Homo sapiens: one gene and its partner. The protein of the gene in region 1 purifies or fractionates together with the protein of each later gene. This does not show direct contact. Each region holds a gene or a part of one and is shown on either strand. Other genes may lie near its edges.

What was found. The genes of interacting proteins can lie anywhere in the genome.
Region 2: the proteins of SLC11A2 (region 1) and NFXL1 purify together in Homo sapiens (affinity purification with mass spectrometry; one large-scale study listed by BioGRID and IntAct). This does not show direct contact.

The regions. Positions count from the first base shown.
Region 1 is NC_000012.12:50,994,458-50,998,936, forward strand, and holds part of SLC11A2 (natural resistance-associated macrophage protein 2), read right to left. Parts: intron 2,516-4,479; coding exon 2,360-2,515; intron 1,331-2,359; coding exon 1,172-1,330; intron 174-1,171; coding exon 87-173; intron 1-86. UniProt on the Homo sapiens protein: Proton-coupled metal ion symporter operating with a proton to metal ion stoichiometry of 1:1. Selectively transports various divalent metal cations, in decreasing affinity: Cd(2+) > Fe(2+) > Co(2+), Mn(2+) >> Zn(2+), Ni(2+), VO(2+).
Region 2 is NC_000004.12:47,911,158-47,916,167, forward strand, and holds the start of NFXL1 (NF-X1-type zinc finger protein NFXL1), read right to left. Parts: upstream 3,427-5,010; 5' UTR 3,208-3,426; exon of another isoform or gene 3,070-3,207; intron 3,049-3,069; 5' UTR 3,047-3,048; coding exon 2,812-3,046; intron 1-2,811.

The DNA.
Region 1 (4,479 bases):
ATCTGAAGTGAAGTCACAAAAAAGACCACATACTATGCTAAAAATACTGATTCAGGAACAAAGATCACAAATCCAAACATGCTTACCCCTTTGTAGATGTCCACAGCCAGTGTCGAGTTATCTTTAGGAAAGAGGCCAGCATGAGGACTGCTGGTATTTGTACAGACTTCAACCTAGAACCCAAAGCAATTCAACAGCAACTTTTGTTTCAGAAGCAAGGACCAAATAAGAGCTCTCCTACATATCATACACAATCATCTATAAGAGGTAGGCTGGAGGGAAAACACTGGACATATGCTGTGATGTGGGCAGAGACTAGCAGCAATGTTATCTAGGATCTTCCTCTATAATCCTTCTACACCCACAGGTCATCAAAAATCTTTACTGAGTTACAGTGTGCATGGTAATAATGTACAAACGCTGGGGTACTTTAAATGATGACAAGAGGAGAGGCTCTGAAGAAGGCTTCAGACATGAGAGAACACCCAGAATAGAATCCTCAGTCAAAGCAGACAGAGGAGTCAGAGGTTCCATAGACGGGAAACAAATGGTGATCAAAACTACACAGGCAGGCCAGGCACAGGAGCTCACGCCTGTAATCCCTGTACTTTGAGAGGCCGAGGCAGGTGGATCACTTGAGGTCAGGAGTTTGAGACCAGCCTGGCCAACATGGTGAAACCCCATCTCTACTAAAATTACAAAAAATTAGCTGGGTGTGGTGGCAGGCACCTGTAATCCCAGCTACTCAGGAGGCTGAGGCAGGAGAATCGCTTGAACCCAGGAGGTGGAGGCAGTGAGCCAAGACTGTGCCACTGCACTCCAGCTTGGATGACAGTGCAAGACTCCGTCTCAAAAAAAACACTACATAGGTAATCAGAAATCAAGATTGATACAGAATTCAAAATGACAAGACAAAGTCTGTCATCATCACAGTTTCTGTTTTCTGTTTGTTGACTACTCCCAAACAAAAGCTGAGAAAGAGGGTCCAGGCTTGGTCAGCCCCATACTGTAGACTCTGACTGGTGCACAGTGATTTTGGGGGGCAGACGAGAAGCTAGAGATTATTTCTCCTGAACATTAACACTAGGATGAGGTATTTTCCTTCCCCATCCCATTGCAGTCTTCACTTTACCCTCACATTCACTACCACCCATAACCCTGGCTTACTCACCACCTGCTCGTTGGTTTTCCCAAAAAATGCTTCAGCAAAGACTGAGACAACAAAGACATTGATGATGAAGGAAACAAAGAGTGCAATGCAGGATTCAATGAAAAAGTACTTATTGGCTTCTCGAACTTCCTGCTTATTGTTCCGGTTTACCTGTCTAGACTAGAAAGATAACAACAGCAGTCACTTTTTGACCAGTTAGAACAAGTTTCCTTGTGACATTTCAGGAGTTTGGAGTCAGCTGAGAGATTTAGGGGACAAAAGTTGACCAGACGAAAAGTGAGAGATCCAACACTCACCTACATCCTAGTTCACTGAGCAATTAAGAACTTCATATGGGGGGAGAAAAAAGAACTTCATGCCCTTTCGTTGAACTGTACATTCCCCAAATAGGGAACAGAGACTAAATGACTACTGAGCTCTCAGTTACTCTCAGTGGCTGGAAGGACCACTGACCTATAAAAACGACCTGATTTCAGTCCTAAGGTGTGCATATACCTATTTATAAAGGTTTCTAAAATCTCCCAGCAAACTATTACATAATACTGACAGTAAAAGCCTGTTTGGGCTCCTTTACTCCTGACCTCCATAAGGCCACTCGAGCTTTTGAAATTTAAACACAAGAGACTTGATGCACTTCCAACCTTTTATGAAGAACTTTAGTCCCAGCTGGGTGCAGTAGCTCACGCCTGTAATCCCAGCACTTTGGGAGGCCAAGGCGGGTGGATTGCTTGAGCTCAGGAGTTCGAGACCAGCCTGGCCAACATGGTGAAACCACATCTCTACTAAAAATAGAAAAATTAGCCAGGCATGGTGGTGCACGCCTATAATCCCAGGTACTCAAGAGGCTGAGGCACGAGAATCACTTGAACCCGGGAGGGAGAGGTTTGCAGTGAGTAGAGATCACGCCACTGCACTCCAGCCTGGGCAATAGAGTGAGACTCCATCTCAATTTAAAAAAAAAAAAAAAAAGAACTTTAGCCCCACCTGCTTTATGCAGTTAGTAATCTCTGGTCAATTTGGTGATAAAAACAGCATCTAAGTATATGGAGTTTATAAATGTCCAGGCTTGGAAAATACCTTGCTCCTTCATGGTCCTAATAATTGTAAACTAACTTTGTGTCCCTTGCAATTGAAGGAAAAGATCCCATGAACTGTCTAGGAGGTGAAGGAGATAAGGGCCTTGCTCACCTTGACTAAGGCAGAATGCAGGTACATGTTGTGTGGCATGATGACAGCTCCCACGATGCCCACAGCCTGTTCAATCTGTGGAGTGCGACAGCCTGAACAGGATGGTACGAACATGCCCTTGAGTACCTGGCTCTGGCTGGGTTTCACTGTAACATACTACATACCAACATAACAATGATTAGCCTTTACAGGAACGTGAAACGGGAGTAACATAGTACCAGGGAACAGTTAGCATCCTTTATCCCTTACAATGCCTTCTTCCTTATTTTTATATTTTTTGAGATAGGATCTTGCTCTGTCACCCAGGCTGGAATGCAGTGGCATGATCACAGCTCACTGAAACCTCAATCTCCCAAGAACAAGCAATCTTCCCACCTCAGCCACCCAAAGTGCTGGGATTACAGGCCACCACACCTGGCCAAAATCTTTTCTTCTGCAACTACCTAAGATAATGAGGAATACAGAATCATCATAGGACCAAGCAACATAAGGGGCTTACTATTAGGGGCCAGAGAATTCAAGACTGAGTATCCGGATAGTTTACAACACATCTTAGATATATGAAACAGATGTGTATGATACATAATTAATTTCTAAAGAAAGGGCTGGGTGCGGTGGCTCACGCCTATAATCCCAGCACTTTAGGAGACCAAGGCAGGCGCATTGCTTGAGCCCAGGAGTTCAAGAGCAGCCTGACAACACAACAAAACCTTATCTCTACAAAAATTACCTCGGTGTGGTGGTGCATACCTATAGTACTAGCTACTAGGGAGGCTGAGGTGGAAGGATCACTTGAGCCCAGGAGGTGAGCTGAGATCGTGCCACTGAACTCCAGCATAGGCAATAGTGTGAGACTCTGTCTCAAAAAAAAAAAAAAAAAAAAAAAAAAGGCCAGGCATGGTGGCTCACGCCTGTAATCCTAGCACTTTAGCAGGTCAAGGCGGGTGGATCACCTGAGGTCAGGAGTTCAAGACCAGCCTGGCAAACATAGTGAAACCCCGTCTCTACGAAAAATACAAAAATTAACCAGGCACGGTGGCGGGCACCCGTAATCCCAGCTACGTGGGAGGCTGAGGCAGGAGAATCGCTTGAACCTGGGGGTGGAAGTTGCAGTGAGCAGAGATCGCACCACTGCACTCCAGCCTGGGCGAAAGAGGGAGACTCCATCTCAAAAAAAAAAAAAGAAAAGAAAAAAGAAAAAGCTGCTAAGGGACTTGTGGTTATTAGTAATTCCACAAGGCTCAAAAATATACAACCAGGGCCAGGCACAGTGGCTCACAGCTGAAATCCTAGCACTTTGGGAGGCCAAGATGGGCAGATTACTTGAGGTCAGCAGTTCAAGACCAGCCTGGCCAACATAGAGAAACCCCATCTCTACTAAAAATACAAAAAGTTAGCCAGGCATGGTGGTACACGCCAATAATCCCAGCTACTTGGGAGGCTGAGGCACAAGAACCACTTGAACCTGGGAGGCGGAGGCTGCAAGTGAGCCAAGATCACACCCACTGCACTCTAGCCTACATGACAGAGCAACGCTCTGGCTCAAAAATAAATAAATAAATAAAAATCTAAAAATTAAAAAAGAATATAGAATCAATTTTTATTATCCATACTGAGCATACTTCTGTTCACCCATGTTCATTTAAAAATCATTTGCTGTTTGCCACTAGTACGTGTGTAATGAGAGACTCATCCTTAAACACTCTCATATATACTCTTCCCCGGTTCAGTATTTCTCTTGGAAGCCTTAGGCCAAGAGGCATAATCAACCCATAGATTACATATATTTTTTAAAGTTCAGCCAGACCAGTAAGCAGAAATCAGTTTATAAGAATTGTACAAAGAAAGGTGCTAGTACTGCAAATAATATTAGTGACTCTAAGGAGTTTCTGGGTTGGGGCACAAACCAGGAAATATCCAGTATATTTCATATAATTCATTAACTGTTTTAATATTGGGAAAGTTCAAGCTGCAATTAATATAAACCAGGATGAACAAAAGCAGAACTCCTGTAAGTTAACACCCAAGAATAACCCTGCAACCCCCTCCTTAATTAACACTATCCATGGCTGTTCTGTTGTCAGATGGTCAACTTGGGACCAAAGAATCTAGTCTGGAAA
Region 2 (5,010 bases), on another chromosome or scaffold:
ACTAAAGAGAATACCACAACAAAAACTTTCACTTTTCTAAGTATCCTGCTAAAATGCAGCAAATTTTTATGATAACGGTGATTAACAAATCAAGAAAAAAAATATGAAAATACAATAAAACTATCAAAATACTGGTGATCAACTTCAAAATAAGGACTAACAAAAATTAAGATGTTTTAAAGTACATTGTGCACAGTAATTTTTAAGAAGTGAGGGAACATGTCCACAGTGAGCACATAAAGAATCAGGGAAGGTAGGTATTTCAAACTACCGTCTTCTGAACAACAGGTAGGATAGGACACGACGGCCCAGCCCAGTCCAGTCCAGCCCTACCAAAGAGTTTGTACCAACAGTACTCACTATGCACCCACTATATTTACAATCGGCTTCTTAGGTCAAGAACTTTTTGCCTTTATTATGGACTTCTTGTGGTCACACAAAAAAACATATTTTACATTAATCCACACAAAGTATTAACATGGAAAACATGTTTCTTCCAACTTCATTCCAAAAAGAATGTTAATTTTGGATTCGTTCTTCCACTATTCAGCACTACCTGTACTTCTCATTTTGTTACTTGATTAATCATGCAAAACAAAACCAGATTACTTCACTGCACATACTCCCAAAGAAACTTCAAACTTCTTGAGAGCAAGGACCACAGGGATTTTCTTCAAGCACTAAGTGTTAATAAGCTCTTACGGACAGCAAACATAGTTTAAGAAAGGAGCCACAAACCTGCAGAACTGATCTGAGTTCATGAATTCCCATCTTGAGAGGATTTTAAATTTACTGATTGACTATTTTAAAATTAACATTATACTTAAAACTGATAAGCCACTACCAAGATAAGCTCTCTTATCTTGGGTGGTATATTCGTACTTGATTATGTTCCCTCATGAAACATTTTCCTTTTCTTATTGCAGCCAGTTTGGTTAGGGGTTATTAACAAAACAAATTGAGTATTTCAAGTAAACCTCGACGAAAATGTGTATCATGCTTACCTAGCAAGCTTTGAGTACTGGGAAAAAAGAACTGGCTATGAGATATATAACTCAAAACTTGTCACAAAAGAGATGATAAATGTCATTAATATACGGGAAATTAGCACTTAAAAGATACATAAGAAAACAGGCTGAACTGGACAGAGATAATGAGAACATTCATAACCTGATAAATGTATTCACCTAACATCATCTCAAAGTAAAGAGAAGCTGACAAGACAACCTTCTCACGTATTATTTCTTACAGCCAAATCTCAACTGTCCAGGTAGAGAATGCTTGTTTTCTTTTTCTTTTCTTTCTTTTTTTTTTTTTTTTGAGACGGAGTCTTGCTCTGTCGCCCAGGCTGGAGTGCAGTGGGGCAATCTCGGCTACTGCAAGCTCCGCCTCCCGGGCTCACGCCATTCTCCTTCCTCAGCCTCCCGAGTAGCTGGGACTACAGGCGCCTGCCACCCCGCCCGGCTAATTTTTTGTATTTTTAGTAGAGACGGGGTTTCACCCTGTTAGCCAGGATGGTCTCCATCTCCTGACCTCATGATCTGCCCGCCTCGGCCTCCCAAAGTGCTGGGATTACAGGCTTGAGCCACCGCGCCCGGACAGAATGCTTGTTTTCCTTCTACCCACGAGATGGAGACCATCCTGGCTAACACGGTGAAACCCCGTCTCTACTAAAAAAAAAAAACCAAAGAACAAAAAACAAAACATTAGCCAGGCGTGGTGGCAGGCGCCTGTAGTCCCAGCTACTCGGGAGGCTGAGGCCGGAGAACGGCCTGAACCCAGGAGGCAGAGCTTGCAGTGAGCCGAGATTGCGCCACTGCACTCCAGCCTGGGCGACCAGCGAGACTCTGTCTCAAAAAAAAAAAAAAAAAAAAAAAGTTTACCAAACCTGTTCACACGTCTCCATATTGTATACCTTATCATCACGGCCATTAACTGCATGCTAAGAGAATACCACCTACCTTTCAAATTAGCCTAGGAGAAAAATCATTCAAGATACTCAATTCTGCTCCACACCCCCCAAAAAAATGTATCCTGAAATGCATTCCAAACACAAAAATAAAATGATTTCAGGGATTATTCCCTCGGCCCCATGCACAATTGTGTGTAAGTCCTCCCTGGCTCCACGAAAACATGGTCTTGGATGAAAAGTATTGATATATCGGAGGCAACACCAGATATGTCCACAGAAGGACATGGAATTTGTAAATAGGAACTACAGTCAAGGAAGGTATCAAAAGCTCAAGTGCTTACAAGGAATAAGACAAGTCAAGAAACAAAGGCAAAGGTAAAGATGACAAATGACACCTGGCTCCAGAAATGAGAGAGAATGTGAGATGGAATGCCCAAGTCCAATCTAAATGGGATTTCTGTGACTCAGCCGAGCTGACTGTTGCCATGCACAAAGATAACTAAAGCCACAAGGTTGTTAACCAGATTTTTAAAAACGACAAACAACCGCTGACAATCAATCCACATTTAAAACTCTGTGTTAACCAAACAACATTATAGACCAAATCAGAACACCGGGCCACAATTTACAACTGATGGTCTGGAGATTCAAGTAGGCAAGAGTGGAGGGAAGTAACAAAGGTAATACCACCTAAAATTAAGATGAAAGAGGTGCGATGGAAATCTACCTAGAGTGCCGAAAAGAGCAGCCACCCGAAAGGCTGGAGAAGTGGGCCCGATAACAAACTCCCGAACGAGGGGAAAAGCAGTGAAAGAAAGAAGGCGAGGGCGGAGGCGGTCCTGACTAGTAACTGCCTTAGGAGGCATCCAGGTGAGCACGCGGGCGGGAGCCATTCTCACCGCTGGCTGCGGTAGTCTGCAGGGCTTGGGATCCTGCGGGGCTGTGCCTGCTCCCTGCAGCCGCCGTGGTCGCGACTCCTCCGGGACTGGTGCCAGAAGGAACTGCGCCCACCGACCCCTTCTCTCGCCCTCCTCCGGCGCCGCGGAGATGGACTCCATTTCCTGAGGGGGCGGCAGTGGCCCGTCCCCGGGATCGGCCTCGGCCACCGGCCACCTGGCGCCAGGAAGCTTCCATCCCTGCAAAGGAGAAAAAAAAAAAAAAGAGTGGAAGGAGGTGAGCGCAGCGAGGACCGAGGCGAAGGAGGGTCAGTGCGGAAACCCGGTGTGAGGGGCCGAGTGAGGAAGGTTCCTGCAGGGCGGCGACCGGGTTTTAGGAGGTCGCGGCCCTGCCTTTACCGGAGGGCGAGTCCCCGCCAAGCCCGGGCTTTGGAGATGGACCGAAGAGGGGAGGGAGGACTAGGTACAGAAATAAACCGCGGAGCAAGAAGCACACAGTGCCGAAGACAGAAAGCCGGAGGAGAAGTCGAAACCGCCTCCTCAGCCTCTGCGGGAGCGTGGTAGGGGAAGAGTCACAGACTGACCCTGCGTCTCCCGCCGGGAACCAACTGCAGTGGTACACCCCACGGAAAGCTACGTCTCCTTACCGACTGCGCACGCCCCCAACAGACTACAACTCCCAGAAGCCCCCGCCCGCGTTCCGGCGACTGCGTGGCAGCACGGGCCGCTTCCTTATCCGGTAAAGTGCGGGGGTTGGGTGGGAGGGAAACCCCAAGCGCCTGCGCTGGCCCGAACAGGCCTTTGGGAACTACAACTCCCGGCGTGCTCTGGGGCTAGGGAGGGGTCGAAGGTCATAGGGGCGCGTGGTGGTGGAGGCGGGCGGGTCCGGAGGGTTTCGTGACCCCACAATTTGCTTCTGCTTCTGCAAGACTGCCCTAAACTCACCTGGGTATGAGGATTACATGGCTCTGTCCCTAATTGGCTCTCTGCCATCTTTTATTAGCCTTGCCTTTGAGCTTGCGGATGACAGGAGGTGTCAATGTAAAATAATCAAAAGCGCGAAGTTTGAGGATAGCCTACCTAGAAACACCGACTCCAAGGAAGGAGTCAGCGTTCCGAAGTAGAGATTTAAGATTTCACTTATATAGGCAGAAACTGAGAGGTTTTTTAGCAGGATTACAGCATTTTCTCATACAAGGTTAGAGAATAGTTACAACAATTTGATTATAGACAGTGTTTCTTTTTGGGAAGTGTACATTTAACATTTTTCATAAAGGATTTTCTGTCATCTGGTCTAAGCAAACCGGGGCAACAAAGCAGAAGTTAATCTATAAGGATCATTAAGAAGGCAGGAAGTTTTTGTCCTTAACTTCGTTTAATTCTCTCTAGCCATTGTATAGAACAAGAAAAATAAGAAAGCAAGTTAATCTATAATCTGAGAAACAGAAGTTGTAACCACGTGTAACTCAGATGACAGTCACATCTCTCTCCAGGCTTAGTGAGTTTTAGGCTCCAACAACCTTTAAACTATTTATTTTCATAGGGAAGTCTCACTAACAGGAAAGGCACTTACATTGAAAACGCTTTGAGGTTGGCCACTGTGAAGGAGGGAAATTCGGGGGAGAGTTGCAGGAAAGTGGCTTGAGTAGTAAAAGTACCCTTCTAAAATGCTAGAGCCAATGTAGAAAATAAATCTAAAGCCTGTTATTGTCATAGTCCTTTGTAGTGTGCAATGAGCTTTCCCTGGGACATGCTAATTTTTACCTTCACAGCATCTCCCTAAAGTAGATTTTGTTAAGGAAAATAGTTGAGGGCCAGGACCTAAATCTTATGATTTTGCTGAGTTTTCCAATAAGATACATGTGCATATATACTGACAGGTAGATTGCAAAAATTCATTCTGGGGTCTGTCTGGGATTGAGAAACATATTGATGGCTTATTGTACAGTCCTTCAACTTAGTTAATTCTTCTATTTTAACCATAAATTTCTATTATAATATTTAGATAGCATTTATTAGATGTCAGGCACTGTTTAAAGTGTTTTACGTTATGTATTAACTAATTTGGTACTCACAGTAACCGTGTTTATTATCCCCGTTTTACAACTGAGAACACTGAGGCACAGAGAGATTAAGCAATTTGCCCTTGATCATACAGCTAGGAAGTAGTGAAGCCAAGATTCAATCCTAAGTAGTCTAGTA